Regions from separate parts of the Homo sapiens genome. Here regions 1, 2, 4, 5, 6 and 7 are each linked to region 3. Evidence: fine-mapped expression QTL. A gene starts in region 3. Each other region holds a variant in brackets. All regions are shown on one strand. Distances are from middle to middle. Region 1 overlaps POR (cytochrome p450 oxidoreductase). Region 2 holds the start of YWHAG (tyrosine 3-monooxygenase/tryptophan 5-monooxygenase activation protein gamma). Region 3 holds the start of UPK3B (uroplakin 3B). Region 4 has its middle 190 kb from the start of POMZP3. Region 5 overlaps YWHAG (tyrosine 3-monooxygenase/tryptophan 5-monooxygenase activation protein gamma). Region 6 overlaps DTX2 (deltex E3 ubiquitin ligase 2). Region 7 overlaps CCDC146 (coiled-coil domain containing 146).

Region 1 (4,075 bases), 530 kb after region 3:
TTGGCTGGGACCAAGGTCCCTCCTCGACCCTATGACGGAGTGTCTTCTAACCTTGCTGCGACCCACTGCCAGCCCTTGTTCCAGGGTGGCTGCCCTCGGCACAGGACCCGCCCAGGCCACCCACCGCACCTGCGGGCACTTGCTCACCTGGACTCCTCGCCAGTGGCTTCCACCCCAAAGTGTTCACACACGGCCGGCCAGAACTGCTCTCGCCAGGTGATGAAGTCCTCCTCCAAGCTGGGCCGAGGAGAGGAGAGGGGGAGCGGCTCAGGGGAGGCCCATGTGGCAACGGTACCTGGTGCCAGGCACGCCCCGACCCCACCCCATCCCCAAAGCTCAGGACTGTGCACCCTGGGGCACCCAGCGACATAAACCCAGAGCATCAGGAAGGCTCCAGGGAGTTGGGCAAGCCGAAAAGCAAAACTGGCAGGGGCAGGGCAGAGGCAGGAGAGCCCCTTCCCTCTGTGTTGGAGGTGCGTGTCGCTGAGTCTCAGCTGACACAATGGTGTGCGCGCCCCTCACGTTCCACGGCCCCTGCCTAAGCCCGCCGCGCTGATCATGGTGGCAGGGTGGGCACTCACTTCCCATCGTCGTCGCCCAACCCCAGCTCAAAGATGCGCTGGGCGCCGAGCTGCTCCAGCCGCTTGTCCACGTACTTGCCCATGGCATTGAAGTGCTCGTAGGTCTTGTTCCCAAGACCAAACACCTGCGTGGACACAGGGGCCGCTCTGAGGCCTGGCCCTCGACCTGACCAGTGGGAGGGGCCATGGGGGCAGGGCGGGAGGCCCCACAGCACTGGCTGAGCTGCTGGCAACACCTGCAGGCCTCCGTTCCACCAGGCGCCTCGCACTGCAAGGAACACTGGGCCACTGAAGAGGCTTCATCTGGTTGACCTGCAGCCCACAGCCTGCCCCGTCCACTGCCAGCCTCAACCCACAGGGAAGCGGGGCCAGCCCACCCTCCCCACCGGGCTGGGGCTCCAGCTCTCCGAGGCCAGGCAGGTCTCAGTCGTCCAGCCAGACCTTTCTTGCCTTTAGTCTCCAGCACCCAATGCCCCCTGGAGCCGACTGGGGCTGGGGACAGGGAGGGGACATTCTCGTAGTGCTGGGGTCTGGGGCAGAGGAGAGGGTCTCACAAGTGGCCTGCCCTGGCTGCTGAGGACAGGGTGGGGGTCTGGAGGGCTGCCTTTCAGATACATGGATCTGGAGTCCCCAGGGAGGCACCGCAGGCCACCGGGAGCCCATAGCAGTCTCTGGGTGACTCACCGCGAACTTGACCCCAGAGAGATCCACGTCTGTCTCCTGCAGCCAGTCGTAGAAGTCCTGGGCATTGTCGGTGGGGTCTCCCTCACCGTAGGTGGCCATGCAGAAAACCACCAGGGCGTTGTCGATCTCTGGCAGGCTGCTCAGGTCGGCCTGCAGAAACAGGGACAGGACCGCGCCCCGGCCATGACTGAGCCTGTTCAAGGTTCAACCCGCACCAGATGGGGAAGGCCAGGTCCTGCCCAGGGTGGCACCAGGCCAGGGATGTCTGAGTGTCGTGGGATCAGAGAGAAGTAACAACACGGAGGGGCTGGGGCATGGGCATTTGTGCCAGGTGGGCAGGACAAGGTCACCCGTGTTAGGCTGGAGCGGAGAGGATGTGTTTCTAGAGGAAAGTGAAGCTTGGCACAAAAGAGCCATCAGAATGCAGCCTCCTGAGCTGATGCAGGTCTGGGGCCACCCTGGGAACCTCATTCCAAAGCTCCCAGGCACCGCACAGCCCCGGTGCACACTGATATCTAACTAAACTGTTCATCAACTGCAAATGCAGCCTGGAGAGGGCTGTGGGGT[A/G]GTGCCCGTCACCAAGACCTCGAAGGAGAGGGGAGTGGAGCAGCTGGGGAGGGTGGGTTTGGTTTGGGAGATGTGGCGGCCGCCAGGAGGGCAGCCGGCACTCAGGGGAGGGCCAGTCCTGGGGAAACGATGCCTGGCACGTGGCTGCAACTGCAGGAATGGCCCTTCCGTCAGTCAGCCCGGGCAGGGATGGCAATGACCCTCACGGGAAGGCAACTTCCGAGGACGTCTTCCCAGGACCCCACTCCCTGCCGGCCTCCCCCTGCTGAGGGGCGCCCTACAGACCTGCTCCCTGTCCTACCCACTGCCTCCATCTGGGGCCAGCACGCGGTGGCAGCTTACCAGGTCATACTCCTCAGGGTCCGCTGACATGCCTCGCATCCCGTAGCGGTGGGCGTCCTTGGACAGGCGGTTGGCAAACTCCTCTGCAGTCCCCGTCTGGGAGCCGTAGAACACGATGATGTTCCTCCCCTAAGGAAGGCAGACACAGGGTTGGTGAGGGCCACAGACCTCAGCCACGGCTCCGGTGAACACCCACTGGGCAGGCCTGGCAGGCGGGGGCCCTCCAGGCCGCCCCCTTTCCTTCCTGGCTTTGAGTCCCTTCTAAGTTCCTCTGGGACTTGCTTCTCACTGTCACAGCCACTGTGGCAAAGGAGGGCAAAGGTCACCAAGGCAATCTCACACACGCGGCTGCTCAAGATCACACTTCTGACATTTTCATGACACGGGGAAAAAACAAAGTTAAAAAAAGTAACCAAATGTATAGCCCCTATCCGTGGGGGAATGGTTCCAGGACCTCCCATAGATACTTACATCCAAGGATGCAGCCGGGCGTGGTGGCTCACACCTGTGATCCCAGCACTTTGGGAGGCTGAGGCTGGCAGATTACCTGAGGTCAGGAGTTCAAGACCAGCCTGACCAACATGGTGAAACTCCATCTCTACTAAAACTACAAAAATTAGCCGGGCATGGTGGCGTGCACCTGTAATCCCAGTTACTAGGGAGGCTGAGGCAGGAAAACAGCTTGAACCCAGGAGGTGGAGGTTGCAGTGAACTGAGAACACGCCACTGCACTCCAGCCTGGGTGACAGAGCAAGACTCCACCTCCAGTGGCTCACGCCTATAATCCCAGCACTTTGGGAGGCCAAGGCGGGTGGATGACTTGAGGTCGAGAGTTCAAGACCAGCCTGACCAATATGGAGAAAACCCTGTCTCTACTAAAAATACAAAATTAGCCGGGCATGGTGGCACATGCCTGTAATCCCAGCTACTTGGGAGGCTGAGGCAGGAGAATCGCTTGGACCTGGGAGGCAGAGGTTGTGGTGAGCCGAGATCGCGCCATTGCACTCCAGCCTGGGCTACAAGAGCAAAACTCCATCACAAAAAAACCCAAAAAACAAAAATCCAAGGATGCTCAAGTCCCTGCTATAAAATGATGTGGTATTTGTGTGTAGCCTACACACATCCTCCAACATACTTTAAATCATCTCTAGATTACTTATTAATGTAATACTTAATGTAATGTAAATTCTCTGTAAATAGTTGCTATGCTGTATTGTTTAGGGAACAGTAAGATGACAGTATGTGTTCAGGACAGACACAACAATCCATTTTTTCTCCAAATATTTTCAGTCTGCAGTTGAATTCTTGAACTCCGAACTCACGGATATGCAGGGCTGGCTATACAATCCAATTGTGTTATATAAATAATAGATATGTATATCAAAACATACATATGTATTTTCTTTCTATACCCACAGGCACAAAGAAAACAGACTGGCAAGAAATATACCGAGGGTCCCTAAATGGGGCATTCTGGATGTGTTTTGCTGGTTAAATACATATTCATTATAAAATTTTACAACAGGGAAAGGTCCTAGGGGCTGGCTCACATACTCGTCAGTCCACCCTCCTCCTCCAGCAGCTGTTGAAAAGCCTGAAATCCTATTCCCCAGAGCCCGTTGGGGCTGGAGTTGCAGCCAATTCGGTTCAGCCAATTGAACGTGCTTTGCAAGATCTGAAGGGTGGAAGGGAGGCCAAGGCTTCCTGGCCCCTCATGCACATGTGAGGTTCTCTGCAGTGCCTGGTCTTCAGTGCCTAAGGCATTTTTCTTTTTTTCTTTTCTTTTTTTTATTTTTGTGTGTGAGACGGAGTCTCGCTCTGACGCCCAGATTGGAGTGTAATGGCACGATCTCAGTTCACTGCAACCTCTGCCTCCTGGGTTCAAGCAATTCTCGTGCCTC
Region 2 (4,000 bases), 150 kb after region 3:
CCTGACACATAATCCCTGGAGTAATTCTGTGAAAGTAGGAACCCTTGCCGGGCGTAATGGCTCACACCTGTAATCCCAGCACTTTGGGAGGCTGAGGCGGATGGATCATGAGGTCAGGAGTTCGAGACCAGCCTAACATGGTGAAACACCGTCTCTACTAAAAATACAAAAATTAGCTGGGCGTGGTGGTGCGCGCCTGTAATCCCAGCTACTTAGAAGGCTGAGGCAGGAGAATCGCTTGAACCCGGGAGGCAGAGGTTGCAGTGAGCCAAGACTGCACCACTGCACTCCAGCCTGGGCTACAGAGCGAGACTCTGTCTCAAAAAAAAAAAAAGAAAAAGAAAAGAAAAAAAAAGAGAGAGTAGGAACCCTTATAACCAAATCCTTTCTCTCCAGTGCTCAGAGAACGAAAGTTTTCTGCTGTCTTTACAACACTGTCTGCTAACAGCTCCGATATGTTAACATGGCTTTACAGTTTAGATGAGAGGTCACTTCTTTTTTTTTTTTTTTTTTTGAGACGGAGTCTTTTTCTGTCTCCCAGGCTGGAGTGCACTGGCACAATCTCGGCTCACTGCAAGCTCCGGAGAGGTCACTTGGCTTCTTGGTTTCCATGCCCCTAACCTTGAAGGAGACGCAGCCCAAGGGCTCAATAGTAATGTCAAAGAACACGGTGGGATTGACCATGGCCAGTAGTAGAGTACTCCTGGCAGCAGCAGAGTCTGCAAAGCTCACTTTTTTTTTGTTTTGTTTTTTGATATGGAGTTTCGCTCTTGTTGCCCAGGCTGAAGTGCAATGAAACGATCTCGGCTCACTGCAACCTCCACCTCCCAGGTTCAAGCAATTCTCCTGCCTCAGCCTCCCAAGTAGCTGGGATTACAGGTGCCCACCACCACACCCAGCTAATTTTTGTATTTTTAGTTGAGATGGGGTTTTGCTACGTTAGCCAGGCTGGTCTCGAACTCCTGACCTCAGATGATCCACCCGCTTCGGCCTCCCAAAGTGTTGGGATTACAGGTGTGAGTCACCGTGCCAGGCCAAAGCTCACTTCTTTTTTTTTTTCGAGACGGAGTCTCGCTCTGTCACCCATGCTGGAGTGCAGTAGAGGGATCTCAGCTCACTGCAACCTCCGACTCCCGGGTTCAAGTGATTCTCCTGCCTCAGCCTCCCGAGTAGCTGGGATAACAGGTGGGCACCACCACGCCCAGCTAGTTCTTTTGTATTTTTTGTAGAGACAGGGTTTCACCATGTTGGCCAGGATGGTCTCGATCTCCTGACCTTGTCATCCGCCCGCCTCGGTCTCCCAAAGTGCTGGGATTACAGGTGTGAGTCACCGTGCCCAGCCTTTAAAAAACTTTTTATTTTATTATTTGTTTTTGAAACGGAGTCTTGCTCTGTCGCCAGACTGGAGTGCAGTGGCGCAATCTCAGCTCACTGCAACCTCAAAACTCACTCCTTACTGACTTCTAGCATACTGTACATATCTCACCTATTTTCTTGGGCAGGGATTTTTGTCTGTTTTGTTCACTACTGTACCTCGTGGCTTAGAATAGGGCTTGGAACACAGTAGCTTCTCATAGATAATTGTTGAATACATAAAGTAAATAAAATGTGCAGTCAAAACTATCAGGCCTGCAGGCATGGTGGCTCACATCTGTAATCCCAGCACCTTGGGAGGCCGAGGCGTGAGGATCGCTTGAGCCCAGGAGTTCGAGACCAGCATGGGCAACAAAGCTAGACCCCCGTCTCTACAAAAAAGCAAAACAAAGCAAAAAAACCCATGCTATCTGCAAGCTATGTGGAATAATATGAACGAGAATATATCAGCGTGACCTCAGTAGGTATGTATGTCTTAGGAGGGGAGAGAAGGGCTGGACAACCAAGCCCTAGACGCAGCCCAGTTAGATGTGGAGTAGGCTCCTGGTAGCTGAACTCAATCTTTAGCACTCCACCCTGGAGAGGAAGAAGGGGTTCTCCAGGGTCAGCCAGCAGACAGCTGCATCCTTTCTGGAAATCAACCACTGTGGCCAGCCGGTATTTGTCGTTCGTCCATGTTTTCACCTATTCAGGCCCAAGAGCCTCAAGGTGGGGTGGGGGGTTTAATGGAAGCTCGTAGGGGGTGGAGGTGACAGTCCCCAGGGTCTGGCCCCTTAATTCGGCCATCCCGCGGGCAGGCACCACACTGAGAGTCTGGATCTACAATGGACGCGCCTC[C/T]TGTCCTTCCCCCACCACGACCTGCTACGTGATCTCGGAAACAGGGTCTAGGACTGAGGCCCCTGCCCCCTCCTCTCGTAATTTCCCGGAGAATATGGGGCGGGGCGGTGAATCAGCACTCGCAGGGACTGATGCAGCCCTGATCCCCGCCAGGGGTCCCCAGCGGCCTCGGGATTCGAAGCACCCCCCCCCGTCCTCCTGCGCCTGCGCGCTATGTCCGCTGGGAGTTGTAGTCTTGACCGCCCCTTTGTCCTTGGTCTCCTCAGCGCCTCAGTGCACTGCAGGTTACACTACAACTCCCAGGGGCCCATGCGTCCGAGGGCTGGCGGGGCGGGAGGCTCAAGGGGGAGGCGTAAGGGGGCGACTGGAGAAGCTGGGGTGAGGGAACTGGGGAGTGAAGTGAAAAAAGGGGAGAGTGGGGGCGCAGTGGGAAAGGACGGGGTGCCCGGAAGACGCGCAGTGAGCCCAGCTGGGGAGCGGGGAGTTCTAGCCGCGGCCGGGCTCGGGCGGGGCATGGGCGGGGCTTGCGGACGGGTGGGCGGGGCCTGCCTTCGTCATGCGGCGTGGGCGGGGCCGCAGGGGGTTGTCCGTCAGTGGCACGCACAGCAGCCGCAGCCGCCTCGCGCCCGGTCCCGCGGTCGCAGCTCCAGCCGCCTCCTCCGCGCAGCCGCCGCCTCAGCTGCTCGCTCTGTGGGTCGGTCCTCTCCGGCACTTGGGCTCCAGTCGCGCCCTCCAAGCCCTTCAGGCCGCCCCAGTGTCCTCCTCCTTCTCCGGCCAGACCCAGCCCCGCGAAGATGGTGGACCGCGAGCAACTGGTGCAGAAAGCCCGGCTGGCCGAGCAGGCGGAGCGCTACGACGACATGGCCGCGGCCATGAAGAACGTGAGTGTCTCCTCCCCTCCCCCGCCGCTCCCTGCCCCTCCGAAGACGCGGTCCTTGGCGTGGAAGGCCCGGGGCTTCGTCGCCCTGTCGCGATGGCGGGTTGACCGCCCCGTCTCGCTCACTGAGGGGGGCTGGGGAGGGTCCCGAGAGGCGACGGGAACCCGGGCTGTGACGCGGCCTCTTTTCGGAGTCCCCGTGGCCCCGCGGCGCTGCCATTCAGGCCCGGCGCGGGCGCGGGCCGGGGCGAGGTCCCGCGGGGCTGGACTTGGGAGCGGGGTCTCCGGCCCCCGCGGCTCTAGGGGTGCAGGGGACCCGAGCGGGGAGGCGTGCGCATCCTTTGTGCCCCACTTCCCCCCTCCTCCTAGCCTGGGCGTGGGGGCGGGGGACCGCATGGATGCGGTTCCTCTTTCTCTCCCTGGTGTCTGGGCGGCGCCTTTCCCATTCACTCAGCAGGTCTCCCGGTTTTCCACCTCCCCAGCCCCCCCAGAATCTTCCCCACTGTCTGTCCCGACACATCCCTGAGAATCTTCCCAGAAACATTGTATAGGGTCTCTTGAAAACCTGAGCTCCGTGGTGCAAAATCGAAACCACCTTGCTCACGTTTTTCTTAACAAAAGGCTCTTCTTTCTCCATTCGCCCAAAGCAAGTCCTCCGGCTTTTAGGAAGGGAGAACGTTTGTCTCGCTAGCGTTTTCATTGATCATTCTCAACATGTCATCTCCATTTTATTCCCTAATGTTTTTGTATTGAAAAGGGTAGGTATTGCCTGTAAAATTAAAAGGTGGTGAATGTAGCTGACTGGTTCGATTCGTGTGACATATGCCGTTTCTTTTTTGAATACAGGCACGCGTCTGTTGAAATTCCTATAAGTTGGGGGAAAAAATATTCTGTCTGATCTGATAGTGCAAA
Region 3 (4,075 bases):
GGGGCATGGAGCTGGAAGGCTGAGCCAGGGTGAGGCAGCGGGGAGGGCAGAGGGTGGACCTGGAGAGTGGGTGAGAGGGCAGAAGGGGGCTGGGCGGAGCGGGGTGCTGTTCCAGCCTCACCACGCCCTGCCTTCCCGGCTTCCCCTGGGCCTGGTCTTCCTGAGGTCACCCCGCCTCCTCCTGTGTCCGGACAGTCCTGACCTGGACACACTGCCTGCTTCCCCATCCCGGCTCCACCCCGATGTTGGCAGGCCACTTGACCTCCTGTGCCTCAGTTTCCTCATCTGTAAGAGCGGGTAGGAGCCACCTCTCCTGCTCCCTGCCTAATACCGACGAGACTGGGTCTGAACTCGGCCCCCGAGTTTCCTGCCAGATCTGCCCGTGGTGGGGGACAGGGGCCTAGACTTTGGGGAAGCTGCCCCCTCCCACCTTGACTAAGATCCCGCCTCCCCAAGGTGCCCACCTGCTCCTCCTGGGCCTTGCCCGGCCCCAGCGGGGGTGAGCACTGTTGCTGACTCTACAGTGGAAGGAGCCCGGGCTTGCAAAGGGGAGGACCGGGGCCGGGGACCCCTCCCTGGAAAGATGCTAGAGAGAGCATCCCTGGTCCCAGCAATGCGTCCGCCCCAAGCACAGCCCCAGTCCCAGGGCTCCGGTGGGGACCACCCACCGATAGGGTCCAGGGCCAGGGAGGGGCGCGTTGCAGAAGGGCTGCTGGTGGCAGCCGTGGTCATGGCCCACCCGCAGCACGGGGGCGCCTCCGCTGCCCGCCATGGGGTCGCCACAGGGCAGCTGGTCCGGAGACAGGGGCAGCGTCATGTAGTGGCCATCGGTCAGCAGCTGTGGGGAGGCCGGAATGTCAGCCAGTGTCTCCGGGTTCTGGAAGCCCCTGGAGGCTGCAGGAGGAGAGAACAGATGGAGGTGGGAGGGGAGAAAGCAGCTTTGTCCTTATGAGTGGGGGTTCTGTGTTCGCCCAGTCTCCAGCCCTGACCCCCCATGCCACCTCCTCCCTCAGGGCCCCCAGAGATAGTCCAGACCCAGTCGACTTTGTTACCCCTGAAGGGGAGCTTCCCTCTGGCCTTTTGTCCCCACCCAGAGCCAGGAGTGGGGAGCAGCGGGCAGTCCCAACCTGCCCAGCCCCAGCCCCAGCCCCATTGCAGTGCACCGGCCCTGCCCCACAGGAGGCCACATCCTCCCAGGTCGCAGCCTCGGTTCCCTGTCCAAAGGAAGAACTACTTGGATTCAGAGAAAGGGTTGCAGAGCCCTTGACAGCTGACAAACCCACCACTAGCACTACTCCCGGGATTTGGTGTTCACTACGTGTGTATTTTTCAATACACATATTACCCCTTTAGATAAAGCCCAATTCATCCACACCTACTCTCCCAAAGGCCCCCACAGGGGCTCAATCATTGAAGGCGCTTGCTGGTGAGGGGCTCCTAGGGCCCACCACTCTCCTCAGCCGTCACCCTCACCCAGGCCCCACAGCAGTCCCCGTACCATTGCTGAAGGCCACCACGAGCCAGACGGTATCGCTGGCGCTGGCAAGCCCATCGAAGACACAGCGCGGCTGCTCCAGGGAGAAGGTGGTGGCTGTGACCTTCCCTTCCAGGTCCCAAGCTGTTATCTGTGGTGTGTAGGGCACCAGCTCTGTGGCCACGGGGGACAAAAGGTGAGCCACGGAGACGGGCGTGGGGGTCCCTGGGGCTGCCTCTCCCAATCGGAGGGGGGCGGGCGCCCAGGGTCCAATCACTCCAGCAGGGCCCCCAGCCCCTTGGGTCTGGCTGGACGCGTCCATCCAGGACCCCCACTCACCCAGGCTCAGGCTGGGCCGGAGACAGTTCAACGCCAGGAGGAGCATCTGCAGCCCTAGGTGAGGCTGCCCCCAGGGTAGCCCCATGACAGCTGCCAGCACCCGGGAGGCTCAGGGGCTGGTCTGGCTGCTTCGGGCTGCACCTCACCCCCAACAGCTTGGCCCTGGAGAAGCTGGTTAATCAGGCTGCCCCAGGGGCTGGAAAGACCTGCAAATGTAAGTGCACCCCACCCCCTTCCTCCCAGGCCAGCCCACAGCAGGGAGGAGCTGGGGGGACTCTGGTGGGAGGCAGGCCAGTATCCAGCCCCACTGCCAGGGCCAAGGGAGAGGGGCCACTGGAACCCCAGATGCCAGCCAGGCCATCCCGGAGCCTGGATTGGGGCCCCTCCCAGTCTCTCCGCCCTGGGGAGGAGGGTCTGGCTTTTGGAAACAGGCTCAGGACCACATGCCTGAGATTCCTGTGCCCCAGGTGCCAGGAGCCTCCCTCTGCCTTCTGTCCCCACCCAGAGTCAGGAGTGGGGAGTAGCAGGCAGCCCCAACCTGCCCAGCCCCATCCCCATCACAGCACGCTGGCCCTGCCCCCCACGAGGCCACATCCTCCCAGTTCGCAGCCTGGGTTCCCTGTCCACAGGAAGAAGAACTTGGATTCAGAGAAAGGGCTGCAGAGCCCTTGACAGCTGACAAGCCCGCCACTTAAACACTACTCCCGGGATTTGGCGCTCACTATGTGTGTATTTTTCAAGACATAACTCACATACCTTCACAACCTTCACAGCTCAGTGGCTTAAATATATATATGTCACCCAGGGAGGTCAGTTCACAGCTAACTGGAGCCTCAAACTCCCAGGTTCAGTTAATCCTCCCACCTCAGCCTTCCCAGTAGCTGGAACCACAGGCACACAACACCATGCTCCGGCTAATTTTTAAAATTTATTTAATTAATTTTTTTTTAAGATGGAGTCTCCTTTGTTGTCCAGGCTGGAGTGCAGTGGCGTGATCTGGGCTCACTGCAACCTCCGCCTCCTGGGTTCAAGCGATTCTCCTGCCTCAGCCTCCCAAGTAGCTGGGATTACAGGCATGTGCCCCACGGCCAGCTAATTTTTGTATTTTTAGTAGGGACGGGGTTTCACCATGTTGGCTTGGCTGGTCTCAAATTCCTGATCTCAAGTGATCCACCCGCCTTGGCCTCCCAAAGTGCTGGGATTACAGGCATGTGCCACCGTGCCTGGCACCCCCGCCAATTTTTTTTTTGTTTTTTTTGAAACGGAGTTTTCACTCTTGTTGCCCAGGCTGGAGTACAATGGCTCGATCTTGGCTCACCGCAACCTCCACCTCCTGGGTTCAAGTGATTCTCCTGCCTCAGCCTCCTGAGTAGCTGGGATTACAGGCATGTGCCACCACACCTGTCTAATTTTGTATTTTTAGTAGAGATAGGGTTTCTCCACGTTGGTGAGGCTGGTCTCGAACTCCTGACCTCAGGTGATCCACCCACCTCAGCCTCCCAAAGCGCTGGGATTGCAGGTGTGAGCCACTGCGCCCGGCTGGCCAATTTTTAAAAATGTATTTTTTATAGAAACAGGATCTTGCTATGTTGCCCAGGCTGATCTCTAACTCCTGGGAGGATCAAGCAAATCTCCTGCCTTGGCCTCCTAAAGTATTGGGATTACAGGCGTGAGCCACCGTGCCTGGCTATTTTTTTTTTTTTTTGAGACATGGAGTCTCACCCTGTCGCCCAGGCTGGAGTGCAATGGCGTGATCTCTGCTCACTGCAACCTCCACCTCCTGGGTTCAAGCAATTCTTCTGCCTCAGCCTCCCTAGTAGCTGGGACTACAGGCACCTACCACCATGCCCAGCTAATTTTTGTATTTTTAGTAGAGATGAGGTTTCACCAACTTGGCCAGGCTGGTCTCGAACGCCTGACCTCGCGATCTACCTGCCTTGGCCTCCCAAAGTGCTGGGATTACAGGCATGAGCCACTGCGCCCAGCTGCTAATTTTTAAAAATATAGTTTTTGAGGCTGGGTGTAGTGACTTACGGCGGTAATCCCAGCACTTTGGGAGGCCGAGGTGGGCAGGTCACTTGAGGTCATGAGTTCGAGACCAGCCTGGCGAACATGGTGAAACCCTGTCTCGACTAAAATTACAAAAATTAGCCGGGTGTGGTGGAACGTGCTTGTAATCCCAAGTACTCGGGAGGCTGAGGCAGGAGAATGACTTGAACCCGGGAGGCGGAGGTTGCAGTGAGCTGAGATCGCACCACCGCA
Region 4 (4,075 bases), 300 kb before region 3:
ATCTAGAACAAATGATTAAATTCTTGGAAATATATGACCTCCATTGAACCAGGAAGAAATTGAATCCCTAAAGAGATCAATAATCAGTTCTGAAATTGAATCAGTAATAAAAAGCATACCAACTAGAAAAAGTCCAGAACCAGACAAATTCACAGCTGAATTCTCCCAATGTATAAAGAAGAGGTGGTATCATTCTTACTGAAACTATTCCAAAAATTCAGGAGGAGGCACTCCTTCCTAACTCATTCTATGAGGCCAGCATCATCCTGTTTCCAAAACCTGGCACAGACACAATAAAAAAAGAAAGCTTCAGGCCAGTATCTTTGATGAACATAGACGCAAAAATCCTCAACAAAAACTAGCAAACCAAATCCAGCAACACATCAAAAAGCTAATCCATCACAATAAAGTAGGCTTTATACTGGGATGCAAGGTTGGTTCATCATACACAAAACAATAGATGTGATTCATCACATAAAGAGAACAAAAAGCAAAAACCACATGATCATCTCCATAGATGCAGAAAAGGCTTTCAATAAAATCCAACATCCCTTTACGTAAAAAACCCTCAACAAACTAGGCATTGAAGGAATATACCTCAAAACAGTAAGTGTCATCTATGATAAACCAGTGGCCAACATCATACTGAATGGAAAAGGCTGGAAGCTTTCCCCTTGAAAACTAGCACAAGACAAAACTCACACCACTCCTATCCAACATAGAATTGGAAGTCCTAGGCAGAGAAACCAGGTAAGAGGAAGAGATAAAAGTCATTTAAATAGGAAGAGAGGAAGTCAAACTATCTCTGTTTGCAGGTTATATGATTCTATACCTAGAAAACCCCATAGTCTCTGCCCAAAAGTTCCGTGATCTGATAAACAACTTCAGCAAAGTTTCAGGATACAAATCAATGTACAACAATTGCCAGCATTCCTATACACCAACAACATCCAAGCTGACAACCAAATCAAGAATGCAATCTTATTCACAATAGCCACCAAAAGAATAAAATATCTAAAAATACAGCTAACCAGGAAGGTGAAAGAGTTCTACAATGAGAATTACAAAACACTGCTCAAAGAAATCAGAGATGCCACAACAAATGGAAAAACTTTCCATGCTCGTGGCTAGGAAGAATTAATATGGTTAAAATGGCCATACTGCCCAAAGCAAATTACAGATTCAATGCTATTCTTTATCAAAATACCAATGACATTCTTCACAGAATTAGAAAAGAACTATTTTAAAATTCACTTGGAAGCAAAAAAGAGCCCAAGTAGCCAAGGTAATCCTAAGCAAAAAGAACAAAGCTGGAGGCATCAAGTTACCCATCTTCAAATCATACTACACAGCTACAGTAACCAAAACCACATGGTACTGGTACAACGACAGGCATATAGACTAATAGAACAGAATAGAGTACCCAGAAATAATGCCACACACCTACAACCATCTGATTTTCCTCAAAGGTGACAAAAGCAAGCAATGGGCAAAGGACTTTCTCGTTAATAAATGGCGCTGTCATAACTGGCTAGCAATATGCAGGAGATTAAAACGGAATCCCTTCCTTATACCATATACAAAAGTCAACTCATCATAGATTAAAGACTTAAATGTAAAACTTAAAACTATAAAAACTCTGGAAGATAACCTAGGAAGTGCCATTCTGGACATAGGCCCTGACAAAGACTTCATGATGAAGACACCAAAAGCAATGGTAACAAAAACAAAAGTTGACACATAGGACCTAATTTAACTAACCAGTTTCTGCACAGCAAAAGAAACTATCAAGAGAGTAAACAGATAACCTACAGAACAGAAGAAGATATTTTGCAAACTGTGCATCTGACAAAGATCTAATATCCAGAATCTATAAGGAACTTAAACAAATTAACAAGCAATAAATAACCCCATGAAAAAGTTGGCTAAGGACACGAACAGCCTCTTTTTAAAAGACGTATCTGCAGCCAACAAGCATATGAAAAAATGTTCAGCATCAATAATCATTAGAGAAATGCAAATCAAAGCCACAATGAGATACCATCTCACACCAGTCAGAATGGCTATTATTAAAAAGTTAACAAATAACAGATGCTGGTGAGGTAGTGAAGAAAAGGGAATGTTTATGCACTACTGATGAGAATGTAAATTAGTTCAGCCATTGTGGAAAACAGTTGGTGATTTCTTAAGGAATTCAAAACAGAATTACCATTTGACCCAGCATGCCATTATTGGATATATACACAAAAGAATATAAATCTTTCTACCCTAAAGACACATGCATGCATATGTTCATTGCAGCACTATTCAAATAGCAATGACATAAAATCTACCTAATTGACCATCGGTGGTAGACTTGATAAAGAAAATGTGGTACATATCCACTATAGAATGCTATGTAGCCATAAAAAATGAGATCATGTCATTTGCAGCAACATGCATGGAGCTGGAGGTCATTATCCTAAGCAAAGTAACA[C/G]AGGAGCAGAAAACCAAATACTACATGTTTTCACTTATAAGTGGGAGCTAAACACGAGTACATGTGAACCCAAAGGAGGGAACAACAGCTACTGGGGCCTACTGAGGGTGGAAGGTGGGAGAAAATTAAAGATAAAAAAAACTACGTATCATCTGGGCGCGGTGGCTCACGCCTGTAATCCCAGCACTTTGGGAGGCCAAGGCAGGCAGATCACGAGGTCAAGAGATCGAGATCATCCTTGCCAACATGGTGAAACCCCATCTCTACTAAAAATACAAAAATTAGCTGGTCATGGTAGCACACACCTGTACTACCAGCTGCTCGGGAGGCTGAGGCAGGAGAATCGCTTGAACCCGGGAGGCGGAGGTTGCAGTGAGCCGAGATCGCACCACTACATTCCAGCCTGGCAACAAAGTGAGATTCCATCTCAATAACAAAATAAAACAAAACAAAACAACAACAACAACAAAAACTACCTATCAGACACTATGCTTATTACCTGGGTGACAAAATAATCTGTACACCAAACTCCCATGACATGCAATTTACCTATGTAACAAACCTGCACGTGTAGCCCTGAACTTAAAACAAAAGTTAAAGACATGATTTAAACAAATCATATTATAGATACTGATAAAGCTAGTTAAGCACTATGCATCCAATAATTATTACACTAAGGCAAAAATACATTGATTTAAAGTCTTTCTTATTGACTAAATAAATAACATGACTTTCTTATTGCAAATTATACTTCAATCACAGAATTCTACTCCAGTTTAGTTTTCAATGTTTTAACATGAGACAGAAGAGACAAGGAATTTACGATAAGATACACTTGAATTTAAGGCTTGGCTCTATCAGTAAATCTCATGTGAGATGGGGCAAGTTTATTGAACCCTTTCTGTCTCATTTTCTTTTGGGTAACATTGGGATGCTGTGAATATTAAGTTGGAATAATCATATCTAACTTGTCTGGTGCATGTTAAAAGTGCCACAAAAGTTAGTTCTCTTTTCTAATTTTTTGTGGCATTTATTGGATACCAGACTAGTGGCATTTATTGGAAACTACTTTTGAAGTATATACATACATACATATATATATATATATATATATATATATATATATATATATATATATATATATATATCTTTTCTCTTTCCTGCATTCATTTGTAAAAGCCTTGCTAATTATTTTTCAATTATACTCTTACAAGTCAATAATAGAAATAGATTCTTTTCCATTAAAAAGTATATCAAGGATAGAGAAGATGAACTAGCAATTTGGATGAAGAAAACAATTCTAAGCCTAAATTAAACCAATTGCTGGGCATACCTGTTTCCTTGAAAGTCTGAGGTAATTATGCCGCTTCCTGGTGGTAAAGAACTGATGATGTGATTTTATTTTGAATAATCTTTGAGGGAAAAACCATACTTTTTCAGCATTTTCTCATCTTATCTATAGAAAATGGCAACAGATTTAGGTAAAAAGCTCTTTAGGAACTGGTCTTATAAAGTTAGCTCTAATAAACTAAATGTCAATGTGATAAAAACAATCCTTACTAAGGAAAAAAATCGACTTTATGTCAGTTCTGAAAAATA
Region 5 (4,065 bases), 160 kb after region 3:
AGTTTGACGTTTACTGTCACCTTGGGAAGCATTTTTATGTACTTTTCCCATTTAATTTCACAACAGTTTTATAAAGTGATAATCTTCTGATTTTAAAGGTGGAAATGTTTAATTTGCCTTAAAATTTTTTTTTTCAAAGTCTAAGGCTCATGGTTTGTAATCCCAGCACTTTGGGAGGCTGGCTGACTCACGCCTGTATTCCCAGCACTCTGGGAGGTGGAGGCGGGCGGGTCACCTGAGGTCAGGAGTTTGAGACCAGCCTGGCCAACATGGTGAAGCCCTGTCTCTACAGAAAATACAAAAATTAGGCCGGGCGCGGTGGCTCACACCTGTAATCCCAGCACTTTGGGAGGCTGAGGTGGGTGCATCACGAGGTTAGGAGATCAAGACCATCCTGGCAAACACGGTGAAACCCCGTCTCTACTAAAAATACAAAAAAATTAGTCGGGCGTGGTGGCGGTCACCTGTAGCCCCAGCTACTCGGGAGGCTGAGGCAGGAGAATGGCGTGAACCCGGGGTGGCGCAGCTTGCACTGCACTCCAGCCTGGGCAACAGAGTGAGACTGTCTCAAAAAAAAAAAAAAAAAAAATTAGCGGGCATGGTGGCGTGCGCCTATAGTCCCAGCTGCTTGGAGGCTGAGGCATGAGAATCACTAGAACCAGGGAGACAGGCTACAGTGAGCTGAGATTGTGCCACTGCACTCTAGCCTGGGCGACACGCTATCTCCAAAAAAAAAAAAAAAAAACGAAGTCTAAGGCTCTTGTTTTAAGTTTTTGTTTTTTCTAGAAAAGGGGTCATGGGTAAAGTGGATACCAGCTGTTGTTTCAATTGATCTCTTTCAATTAATTTTAGCATATGTTCCATTGCTTGCAGATGCATGGAAAATCCTTTTAAACTGCTGCATATTTAATAATTTTTCCATTGGTTAACCTTGAGGTGGTGGCGTGTCATCTAGGTTTAAATACAGAAGAACTCATTTCCTTTAGGACAGTTGAAAGATGTATTACTCAATACAAGTGTAACCCGGTTTCTTTTAGAAAACATTCGATCCCACGATTGCAGTGTGTTTTTTGAATGTCATTTAACAAAGGAGAGCTTGAGATTTTTAACATGAGGTAAGTGCTGTAGTTTTGCTGTTTGGAGTCTTAGAGATATTGCCAGGAGGCATGAGGGTACCACTCAGAACCGAATGGAAGCAGATACCTCACTCAAAAGAAACAGATCTGGGAGGAAGAGAAAACCTTTTGTATAGCAAGTAAAAACCAGAATAATATAGTTTTATGTGGAATTTGCAAACTGGAGTTTGGAGCATGTTTTGAGGATTTGGGTGAAGATCAAAGGAAGAAAAGAGATGCTAGTTATTTATATTGTATATAAGATATTTTCGTAGACATTTGAGTGTTTTTTTTGTTTGTTTGTTTGCTGACACTGATTTTCCCTCTTATTTCCCAGGCTGGAGTTCAATGGCACGATCTCAGCTCACTGCAACCTCCACCTCCCAGGTTCAAGCGATTCTCCTGCTGCAGCCTCCCAAGTAGCACATGCCACCATGCCCAGCTAATTTTTTTGTATTTTTAGTAGAGACAGGGTTGCACCATGTTGGTCAGGCTGGTGTTGAACTCCTGACCTCAGGTGAACCACCTGCCTTGGCCTCCCAAAGTGCTAGGATTACAGGCATGAGCCACTGTGCCCGGCAGACATTTGAGTATTTGGATGTAAGCATTTGAATATTTTGTAGACATTTTAGGCAGGTGAAAGAAATAAATGCACTGATCTAAAATCCTAGGAAAGATACGGTTGTGATGGGAGTCCTGTTGAACATCTGTGGGGATCTTGATTCCACAAAAGAAATTGAAGTAAGCCTAGGGTGCTGTGCTACTGGAGACGGACGCTTAGTTGACACTGGTCGTCAGGGAGGGTTTCCTAGAGGAAGTGATGCCTGCGCAGTGTCTTTGGGAAACTTGAGGGAGGGGGAGAGGTTGGAGGAAGGAATAGCCAGGCAGAGGGCATAGGACGCTTAGTTTCAGGATGGAAAAGGAGAACTGGTGGCGTGATTTGTTTAGTCCTTGTTGGTGGCATTCAGGGAATGCTGTGGTGGTGCGCTTTTTGAGGGAGTAGCAGGAAATGAGTTGAAAGAGGTTAACAGGAAACAGTTCACGAAGGGCCTTCTGAGGTTTGTTTCTTCTTAAGCCATGGTGAGTCTCTTCAGGCTGAAGAGGACCATAATCTAATTTTTGGTGTGGCGAGATCCCAGGCAGCAGTGTGGAAACTGAGTAGGACAGTGAGGCAGAGCAAGGGGAGGCTGAGGAGTAGATTGTCAGGTCTAGTCTTCAGGGACCTGGACAAGAACGGCAAGGGCAGGTTGGAGAGGCAGAAATGGGTGGCCAGAGATAGAAGAAGAAAGAGGAGGAGAAAATGGTGGAAAAGATGAATTCTGGTGTTCTGCTGAATTTGAGGAAACACTTAAGTGGAGGCAAATTAACTTGGC[T/C]ACAGGTCAATTTGACCGCCATTCGTAACAGTGCCCTGGCACAGTGTAAGCAAAGAAACATTTAGGATCCACTAATAACCAGGCTGGCCTAACAGCTGCAGAATATAATATCCTCTTCCCTGGTAGAACTGACATTCAAGAGGGAGCCGCTTTGTATCCATGTGTGTTGGAACCATGCAGAACAAAGGTCACCCAGAAAAAAATGTAGCATCTGTGTCACAGTGTAAAGCGCTAGGGAGTGGTTGGCACTTAAGTAGTGACTGGAACGAGGAAGGAAAGACCAGGAAAGAAGGCTGACAAGGGGAGGAGAGCCTCAGGAAAGAGCGGTCATCAGGGTTAGATGCCTCTGTGAGTTCAGACTTAAGATGAAGACCAAGAGCACTGGATGCCTGGGGTCGGAAGACAGTGACGACTGTGTAGGGCTGTGGGGTTGAGGAGGGAGTGAAACATTGAAGAAATGGTAACAATTGTAGACTTAATTCCAGAACCTTGATTTTGAAAGAACCAGGAAGAGGTGGGATTGAAATGCATCATTTATTTTTTATTTTATTTATTTACTTACTTATTTTTAAATTTTTTTTTGAGGCGGAGTTTCACTCTGTAGCCCAGGCTGGAGTGCACTGGTGCAATCTCGGCTCCCTGCAACCTCCATCTCCCGGGTCCCGGTTCAAGCAATTCTGCTGCCTCAGCCTACCTAGTAGCTGGGATTACAGGCTCGTGCCACCATGCCCAGCTAATTTTTGTATTTTTAGTAGAGACGGGTTTCACCATGTTGGCCAGGCCGGTTTTGAAGACCTCATGATCCGGCCACTTCGGCCTCCCAAAGTGCTGGGATTACAGGCATGAGCCACTGCGCCAGGCCTCATTTTTTTAAATCTTAACTTTCACTGTATGTTAATGGGGAAGAGTAGGAGAGGGACAATAGAAGAATGTAATAGAATGACCAGTGGGAATCCATGGAGGGGGAAGAAACATCTTTTGTTGGCACTCAACAAAGGAGGCAGTGATCAATGCAGCTACTTTTGGAAGAAAGGCTTGGCCAGGTACGGTGGCTCACGCCTGTAATCCCAGCACTTTGGGAGGCCGAGGCGGGTGGATCACGAGGTCAGGAGATTGAGACTATCCTGGCTAACATTGTGAAACCCCGTCTCTACTAAAAAATACAAAAAATTAGCTGGGCATTGTGGCGGGTGCCTGTAGTCCCAGCTGCTCGGGGGACTGAGACAGGAGAATGGTGTGAACCCGGGAGGCAGAGCTTGCAGTGAGCCAAGATCGTGCCACTGCACTCCAGCCTGGGCAACAGAGCGAGACTCCGTCTCCAAAAAAAAAAAAAAAAAGCCTTAGGATAGGCTTAACTAATGGTCACGTTCCTCTATGAAGAAGAGGTGGCAGGCAATAACCTAGGATTGCCAGGCCGTTTGTAGTGACTTCAACCTCTAGTTCTCTCTCTCAGTGTCCCCCTCCCTCACCTAAATCTTGGCTGCAAGAGTGGGAGGAGGGGCAGGGGGTTGGATTGATCTGGGTATTTTAGGGATGGTGTAGCAGAAGGACAAGACAGTGATATGCCTGCAGAAAGA
Region 6 (4,075 bases), 30 kb after region 3:
GACGACACCTCGGCCAGGGGCTGAGTGCTGGGGGAACAGGTGTCTCCGCACAGCCCGCATGGTGCCTATTTTCAAAGGAAAACAAAAGGTTAGTCTGCTAGCATCCCCAAGATACAGGGAACGTTCAAATTCTTTTTTCAACCGCCAAAATAAACAAATAGGAACACAGTAGGTACACAGTCATGCTGCTATTTGTTTATTTATTTATTGTTAGAGGCAGGGTACCCCTTTGTCGCCCAGGCTGCAGTGCAGTGATGTGATCATAGTTCACTGCCACCCTGACCTCCTGGGCTCAAGCGATCCTCCTGCCTTAGCCTCCTAAATAACTGGGACTACAGGCACATGACACCACACCCAGCTAACTTCAAATCGACCTCTACAACACCTGCCACTTTCATTCCCCGATTAACACTTCCTGCTCTCTGCCACGATATGCAATTTCCATGTTATTATTTATCCTGTCTGCTATCTTTCTCAGTTGACTTCACACACTGTGAAGGCAACGACTTGGGAGCTGACTGACAGCCACAGTTTTCACAGACTCTACGACACTCCTGGAAACACATAGTTTCCAGGGCTGGGCATGACGGCTCGAGCCTGTAATCCCAACACTTTCGGAGGCCAAGGCAGGAGGATCACTTGAGCTCAGGAGTTGAAGACCAGCCTGGGCAACACAGGGCAATGGAGACCCAGTCTTTACAAAAAACAAACAAACAAACAAACACGAAAAAAAAAAACCCATACTTTTAAAAATAAAACTAAAATTAAAATTGAAAAAAAAAAGGAAAAACCAGTTTTTCAAGTTTCCTCACTGGTGACACTGTGGGCCAATAATTCCTTACTGCAGGGCCAGCCCAGTGCACTGCCGGATGGCGAGCAGCATCCCTGGCCTCCACCCACCAGATGCCAGGAGCACCCCCACCTCCCACCCACTCAGCTGTAACAACCAACAATGTCTCCAAACATTGTCAGATGGCCCCGGGGACAAAATCACCCCCAGTGACAACCACCAGATTAGAGTAAGGGATGGCTCCGAGAGGAAACTGGTGCCTCATTCTCAATAATACTGATCAAAACACACTGCAGGTCCAGGCGCGGTGGCTCATGCTTGTAATCCCAGCACTTTGGGAGGCCGAGGCAGGCAGATCACCTGAGGTCAGGAGCTCGACACCAGCCTGGCCAACGTGGCAAAACCCCGTCTCTACTAAAAATACAAAAATTAGCCAGGTGTGGTGGTGGATGCCTATAATCCCAGCTACTCGGGAGGCTGAGGCAGGAGAATCGCTTGAACCCAGGAGGCAGGGGTTGCAGTGAGCCGAGACTGCGCCACTGCACTCCAGTTTAGGCAACAGAGCCAGACTCCGTCTCAAAAAAAAAAAAAAAGATCAAAACACATCGCAGACCAAAAAGCAGAAACGCACACATGCAGAGGGGCGCAGTTGCCTGCCCAGGGCACACAGCCACTGAGTGGTGGGACAGGGCCCTCTGAACTCCTATGACGCACCACCTCCATGCCGGCCTGCCGGCCAAAGGAACCCTTCAACCTCTGTGGTCGGGACAGGCATTTCTGCTTTGCAAGACAAGGGGAAGGGCCTCCCACAGTGCCTCTCCCACTGTGAGCTGCACTCAACCTATGTGGATGTTCCCACTCACTGCACCCACCCACCACCACGTGTGCTGCAGGGAGAGAGCAGAAGCTCTGTAAGTCACGTCCATCACCCCAACACCTGGCGCAGAGCCTGTGGGAAAGCAGGTGCGGCACCCAGATATGTGCGAGAGGCAGACAGCGTCTTACCGGTGTCCTGGCGGAACTGGGTCCAGCTGGGGAGGTCAATAATGTAAGGGGCCAGCGAGGGGTCTGCCTGGCCCAAGGGGATGCTGTGGGCCAGGCTCCCAAGCCCAAAACGTTGGCCCTTCTGCTGGACAAACTGCTGCTCGATGAAGCTGCAGACGGTGGCACTGTAGGGGTGCCAGGTGCCCAGCCCGTCCTGCCATTCCCACACGGCCACAGCCGCGGGGCTGGTGTACACCTGCACCAGGGAAGGGCTTGGGGCCATGGCCATCTTCCCAAGGAGTCCCGCTGCTTTCCCAAACAGCTTCAGACCCCTCTGGCCTGGAGTCCCGGGGTCATTGCCCAGCGCCTCCGGCAGATCTGTGAACAGGACAGACATGAGCA[G/T]TTACCAATGCACATCAGTAGCCCTGCAGAATCAGCCTCAGCGCAGGGGAAACACGTGATGCTTTTCCACAGCTGATTTTTTTTTTTTTTTGGTTACAGGGTCTCACTCTCTCACCCAGGCTACAGTGCAGCAGTGTGATCTTGGCTCACAGCAGCCTCAAACTCCTGGTCTCAAGCAATCCTCACAACTCAGCCTCCAGAGCAGCTGGGACAATAGGCATTCACCACCACACCCAGCTCATTTTTTTACTTTTTGTAGAGATGATGTCTGTGTTGCCCAGGCTGGTCTCAAAGTCCCAGCCTCAAGGGATAGACTCGCCTCAGCCTTCCCAAGTGCTGGGATCACAGGTGTGAGCCACCGCGCCTGGTCTCACGCTTGCTTTTCTTCCCCTAACACCTTAAGGGCATCATGAATCAAGAACCTGATCCTGTCTCTTTGCTGTGGCAGCCAGGAAGAATTCAAAGTCAATCCCGCAGCCTACGTACCGCCGCACAGGCCCATGAAGAAAGAGAGCATAAATTCCGGGTGCTAGTCACCAGCCCAGCTTCTTTCTTGCTACTGATAATTCCCCTCTGACCCAACTGCTTAGTGTGTTTCATCATGCATGTATTTTTTTTTCTTTGAGATGGAGTTTCCCTCTTGTCACCCAGGCGTGTGATCTCGGCTCACTGCAACCTCCACCTCCCGGGTAGGTTCAAGTGATTCTCCTGCCTCAGCCTCCCGAGTAGCTAGGACTACAGGCATGCACCACTGCGCCCAGCTAATTTTTTGTATTTTTAGTAGAGACGGGGTTTCACCATGTTGGCCAGGCTGGTCTCAAACTCCTGACCTCAGGTGATCCACCCACCTCAGCCTCCCTATTAGCACCCACCATCCTGAAGATGAGATCCCAACATTTCTTGGAAAGGAGCAGGGTTTGGGACACCCAGGGAGCAGGGGCAGAGCTGGGAACTGCAGCACAGGTTCTAGCTCCTCATGTCTCCCAGGTGCCCTGAAGCATTGCTAACCAAAAAGGAAGCCCTAGATGGGCACCGAATCACCCCTCTCTGGCCTCTCCAAGGCTCTCTGCACCCACTCCCCGACCTGGCCCCTGCTGACCGGCCACCAGGCCCAGGGAGCTCTTCCCCACATCCCGAGCTCCACCTCCCGAGACCTTCTCCTTGCAGTCACTCCAGCCCACCCTCTTCCCTTGCGAACACTCCACGTCCTCCAGGCCCAGCTTGCATCGCTCAGGATGACCCATCACACGCCCTCTGCACCCTCCACAGCACCCACCAGAACCCTAGTAACCGCGTCCACGTGTGGCTGTGACCACAGTCCTTCTGCTCCTCCCCAGGTGGCAGCAACCCCAAGCCTGCTTCATTCACAGCTGCATCACCGGGACCCAGCAGGGGCATGCCACGTGGTGAGTGTTCTAGAATGTTCTACACACTGCTTCAGAATGACAGAGTGAATGTGGACAATGATTCCGCTCAGCACCTGGAGCTGTCTGAATAAGAAGAGGCCTGCAAATGCCCCACCTGATGGCTGCCCCCCAGGGCACCGGCTGTTGGAGTGCCGGTCCAGGGTCCAACATTTAGTAACCAACATCAAATGTACTTGTCTCTCCTAAGCTGCACAGACTGCCAAGGTGACATTTCTCCCACTTACGGACAGGAAACCAAGGCTGAAAGAGGTCAAGGGGACTGGGTGTGGTGGCTCACACCTGCAATGCCAGTGTTTAGGGAGGCTGCGACAGGAGGGTGGTTTGAGCACAGGAGTTTGAGGCCAGCCTGGGCAACATAGTGAGATCCCATCTCTGCAGAAAATTTAAAAGTTAGCCAGGTGCGGAGGTGCATGCCAATAGTCCCAGCTACTCAAGAGGCTGAGGCAGGAGGATGGCTTGAGCCCAGGAGTTA
Region 7 (4,075 bases), 760 kb before region 3:
ACAGACCAAACAGACCACATCTGGGTCATGAGATAAATTCTTTTTTTTTTTTATTTTTGAGAGGAAGTCTCGCTCTGTCACCCAGGCTGGAATGCAGTGGTGCGATTTTGGCTCACTACAACCTCCACCTCCTAGGTTCAAACGATTCTCCTGCCTCAGTCTCCCAAGTAGCTGGGATTACAGGCACCTGCCACCATGCCTGGCTAATTTTTGTATTTCAGTAGAGATGGGGTTTCACCATGTTGGTCAGGCTGGTCTCAAACTCCTGACCTCAAGTTATCCACCCGCCTCAGCCTCCCAAAGTGCTGAGATTACAGGCATGAGTCACCATGCCTGGCCTGATAAATTCTTCTATTTTAGTAATATGTAATATCCTGTTTATTTTTAACAGGGAGCTTCTGGGCATGATCTGGACATAATCCTTATATGGAATAAACAATTCTAATGGTAGAATTTTAGCTTGCATGACAGGAGTGCTGCCTTACCATTTGTTTTATTGTTGATTTTAGGGGGGAATGTTGCACTGGCACTTTGTAGGAGGCCCAGGAAAATCATGGTGTGATGAAGCAACTAAGGGTATCTGGCATTCGATTAAATGATGCTGTCTTGATGAAGTTGGGAGGGACAGTTACCTAATGCTACCACTCTTGAGTTGTTCCTGGACAAATCACAGTGGAGTCTGAGATGGGAGTGAAAACTAAATGATATCTGCAGCCTATGCAGCTGCCAGCCCTGTCCACTGGAGGCACCCACTTTATTCTTACTGAAATTGCCATCTGTTCAAATCCTCCGATCATTATCAATGATCTCCTTTCCCATCTAAATTGTTGATTACTGTTAATTGAATCTTGGGACTATCTTTCAGTGCATGATTGAATCTCATTTAGGGAAGATTTATAGTCACTGGTACTTGAAGGAGAGGCACAGTTATAGTGGTTCCTTGGTATACATAGGGAACTGGTTCCAGGACCCTTTGAGAATACAAAAATCCAAGCATATTCAAGCAGTCCCAAAGTTGGCCCTGTGGAACTCACCTGTAAGAAAAGTGGGCCTTCCATATTTGCAGGTTTTGTATTCTGTGAGTACTCTACTTTTGATCTGCATTTGGTTGAAAAAAATCTGTGTATAAATGGACCCATGCAGTTCAAATCCATGTTGTTCAAGGGTCAATTGTATAGCTTTTCTTTTTTTTTTTGAGTTTCCTTCCAGTTCTTTTTTTAATATTTATATATTTTTATTATACTTTAAGTTCTAGGATACATGTGCACAATGTGCAAGTTAGTTACGTATGTATACATGTGCCATGTTGGTGTGCTGCACCCATTAACTCATCATTTACATTAGGTATATCTCCTAATGCTATCCCTCCCCGCTCCCCTCACCCCACAACAGGCCCCGGTGTGTGATGTTCCCCTTCCTGTGTCCAAGTGTTCTCATTGTTCAATTCCCATCTATGAGTGAGAACATGCAATGTTTGGTTTTTTGTCCTTGCGATAGTTTGCTGACAATGATGGTTTCTAGCTTCATCCATGTCCTAATGCACGTGGCATTATAATGAGGCTACCCTGAACTCTTGTAGTTATCAATGAATGGTTAAAAAAATGCAGTTACCTGAGCTTTCAGGAAATCCTTGGACTTTTGTTCCTTTTCATCAATTTTGATTTGAGTCATGCGGAGAAGGTTGACTACTAGCTCTTTCATGTTTTCTTGCTCCTTTAAAAGCTTGTTTTCTTCTGCAAGTTGTTGTTCTACTAACTTAGACTCCATTTCTGATATAATTTTCTTTTGAAAAAAAACACAGATAATATTATAAGTTATTTGTTTGAAGTAATACAGTAAAGCTAGTATCTTAGACTACCTTTTTACTTCCTATACAAAATGTATTTTTTTAAACAGGCCAGGTGTGGTGGCTCACGCCTGTAATTCAAGCCTTTGGGAGGCTGAGGCAGGATGATGACTTGAGGCCAGCAGTTCAAGACCAGCCTGAGCAACATAGCAAGATCCCTCTCTATAAAAAAAATAAAAATTAAAAATAAAGTAATGGTGTTTTAGCTTCATTGTTTTCATTTTGTAAAATAATGTGAAAATCGATGGGTTAACATGATAGAACCTCTTTGTATTTAGACTGTATTTTCAAGTGACTAAGAAAAAGAAGACACATAAAAACAAACGAAAATTTGAAAT[T/G]AGACATTGGTGAAATAAAACATCTGTGGTTTACTTTTAATGTAATCAACAGCCCATAATTTAAAAATCTCATTCCTTTGAATACTTTTTGCGGTTCAAACATATTCTTTTTTCTCAAATTTAGTGTAGGATTGGAGTGGACTTTGAGATGAAGAAATATGCCCACATGAAGCAGGATCATACTCTCTTTGATGACTCTCTTATTGATAAGGTTTTGTGGAGCACAGTTAAAAGCACAACTTTGTATGAACGCTTCTTAGATAGAAGCTTAAATGAGCATTGATATTAACCTGTTGGGCCAAATTCCTCTTAGCTACTTCAACTTCCTTGTGAAGCTCTCGCCTTCTCTCAGATAATGTAGAATCATCTTTGGGGATAGCTTCCATCTGGAAATCAAAATTTAAAAACATGCATTTATGTAAGAAATAAATCTTTGGGAGGCTGAGGCAGAGAATTGCTTGAACCCGGGAGGCAGAAGTTGCAGTGAGCTGAGATCGTGCCACTGCACTCCAGCCTGGGTGACAGAGTGAGACTCTGTCTGAAAATAAATAAATAAATAAATAAATAAATAAAATTCACTGCTGTGTAGTCAACCTCATCACACACTTTTTGAAAATGCTGAGCAAATCACGAATCTCAATCTTATAAGAACTTCCCTTTATGCCAAATATTCTTTATAAGCCATGGCAAATTAAAATATGAAGACCTGCCAAAAATCTATAATTTGCCAGCTGCAAATGTTTATTATTTAGAAATAAATCTTACTAATAGCTAACATTTATTGAACATAAACCAAGTGTCCAGCAAGGTTCTAAATGCCTGTGTATACGATCTTATTTCATCATTACAATACCCCTCATGAGGTGGGGAATATTTTCTCCAATTGTACAGATGAAGAGAATGAGGCACAAACACATTTAAGCAACTTGCCTCAATGGTGCAGGTGTAAACCCAGGGAGGTAGACTTGGAACCCATGATCTGCCTAACTCATCTAACTCATGACCCAGCACTTTGGAGACATGAATATACTATGACTATTCAAATTATAGTTATTATAAAATGTGAGTACATTTATGAAATTGTATAGGATAAAGAAAAATATGTAATTTATTAATAATAGTGGGGATAGTTTGCTACTTATATATAGTCATTTGATTAGTAGCTGGAAATTTCTTACACAAAAGAAAAGCCTCAACTTTTTGGTTGATACCTAAAATTTCACCATTACATTTCTGTTGTAACGGCTTGCACTTTTCTCCTGTGTTGACGTACTTTAGGGAAAAGGCAAATCTCACTCTTTAAGTCTTTGTTGCCCTATTAGGAATGAGCTTGTCAGATTCTTTGTGATGAAGACGAGAGTAGAGAGGAGGACATGTGGCAGCTGATGGGGAAAGGGTACCATTCAAGGCTACAGGGAGGGTCATCTTGGGGTGCTTCCAGCCTACTTGACTTAGAGCAAGTTTAGAGTTGGCTATTTACACCAAAAGCTCATGACTCCAATCTGATGTGGTTCAGTTCCTACTGTGACAGCACACACTTGTAGGCCCTAAGGTTGAATAATGGCCAAAATTTAGACCCAAGAAAGGAATATCACACTGTCTAGTGATTTGAAGGTTACTTAACAGGATCTTTTTGAGGATCATGCTGCTATGTTAAAGTCACTAAAGTGTGTCTTTGGATGCCCCATCATCCATGAATCAGGGTATCTTCAGTAGCACCTTCTGTACCCTCAGGTGTCCATGTCCTGCTTTTCCATTGGGTCTCCTACCCTGGAGCACTAGCTCTTGAGATGCACACACTGGACTTAGGAAAACGAGATGTGGTCTTGTGAAACATGTCTGACAATATACAGAATGTTGTGGGCTTAACAAACATAAAATTGCTATAGCA

The links. PIP is the estimated chance that this variant, and not a neighbour inherited with it, causes the effect.
Region 1: its variant is fine-mapped to the expression of UPK3B in whole blood (TOPMed, PIP above 0.99).
Region 2: its variant is fine-mapped to the expression of UPK3B in whole blood (TOPMed, PIP above 0.99). The same link has a PIP of 0.9 or more in lung.
Region 4: its variant is fine-mapped to the expression of UPK3B in whole blood (TOPMed, PIP above 0.99).
Region 5: its variant is fine-mapped to the expression of UPK3B in whole blood (TOPMed, PIP above 0.99).
Region 6: its variant is fine-mapped to the expression of UPK3B in whole blood (INTERVAL, PIP above 0.99).
Region 7: its variant is fine-mapped to the expression of UPK3B in whole blood (TOPMed, PIP 0.98).

Annotation. Positions count from the first base shown.
Region 1 is chr7:75,977,679-75,981,753 of GRCh38, reverse strand. It overlaps POR (cytochrome p450 oxidoreductase), which reads right to left. Exons shown (of 16, transcript NM_001395413.1): 4 at 2,175-2,303; 5 at 1,266-1,415; 6 at 582-706; 7 at 148-237. Among named protein-coding and RNA genes, the nearest start is that of TMEM120A, 15 kb to the left of the region's middle. The variant A/G (reference allele first, on the strand shown) is at 1,833.
Region 2 is chr7:76,357,814-76,361,813 of GRCh38, reverse strand. YWHAG (tyrosine 3-monooxygenase/tryptophan 5-monooxygenase activation protein gamma) reads left to right here and starts at 2,823. Exons shown (of 2, transcript NM_012479.4): 1 at 2,823-3,092. The coding sequence starts at 3,006. It also overlaps the pseudogene PPIAP81. RefSeq lists silencers at 2,489-2,898, 3,219-3,418, 3,502-3,692 and an enhancer at 2,748-3,394. The variant C/T (reference allele first, on the strand shown) is at 2,212.
Region 3 is chr7:76,508,476-76,512,550 of GRCh38, reverse strand. It overlaps UPK3B (uroplakin 3B), which reads right to left and starts at 1,999. Exons shown (of 6, transcript NM_001347684.2): 1 at 1,814-1,999; 2 at 1,499-1,648; 3 at 669-894. The coding sequence starts at 1,898. LOC124901675 (a long non-coding RNA gene) reads left to right here and starts at 1,818. Exons shown (of 2, transcript XR_007060388.1): 1 at 1,818-2,027; 2 at 2,443-4,075. RefSeq lists enhancers at 1-635, 1,389-1,961, 1,962-2,534 and a silencer at 3,412-3,617.
Region 4 is chr7:76,811,104-76,815,178 of GRCh38, reverse strand. No RefSeq gene overlaps it. Among named protein-coding and RNA genes, the nearest start is that of POMZP3, 190 kb to the right of the region's middle. The variant C/G (reference allele first, on the strand shown) is at 2,477.
Region 5 is chr7:76,344,946-76,349,010 of GRCh38, reverse strand. All of the region lies in intron 1 of YWHAG (tyrosine 3-monooxygenase/tryptophan 5-monooxygenase activation protein gamma), which reads left to right. Among named protein-coding and RNA genes, the nearest start is that of YWHAG, 12 kb to the left of the region's middle. The variant T/C (reference allele first, on the strand shown) is at 2,489.
Region 6 is chr7:76,478,498-76,482,572 of GRCh38, reverse strand. DTX2 (deltex E3 ubiquitin ligase 2) reads right to left here. Exons shown (of 11, transcript NM_001102594.3): 3 at 1,796-2,152; 4 at 1-65. The coding sequence starts at 2,063. Among named protein-coding and RNA genes, the nearest start is that of DTX2, 19 kb to the right of the region's middle. The variant G/T (reference allele first, on the strand shown) is at 2,177.
Region 7 is chr7:77,272,189-77,276,263 of GRCh38, reverse strand. It overlaps CCDC146 (coiled-coil domain containing 146), which reads right to left. Exons shown (of 19, transcript NM_020879.3): 10 at 2,475-2,570; 11 at 1,612-1,782. The region is part of intron 2 of LOC102723791 (a long non-coding RNA gene); the gene reads left to right. Among named protein-coding and RNA genes, the nearest start is that of CCDC146-AS1, 26 kb to the right of the region's middle. The variant T/G (reference allele first, on the strand shown) is at 2,185.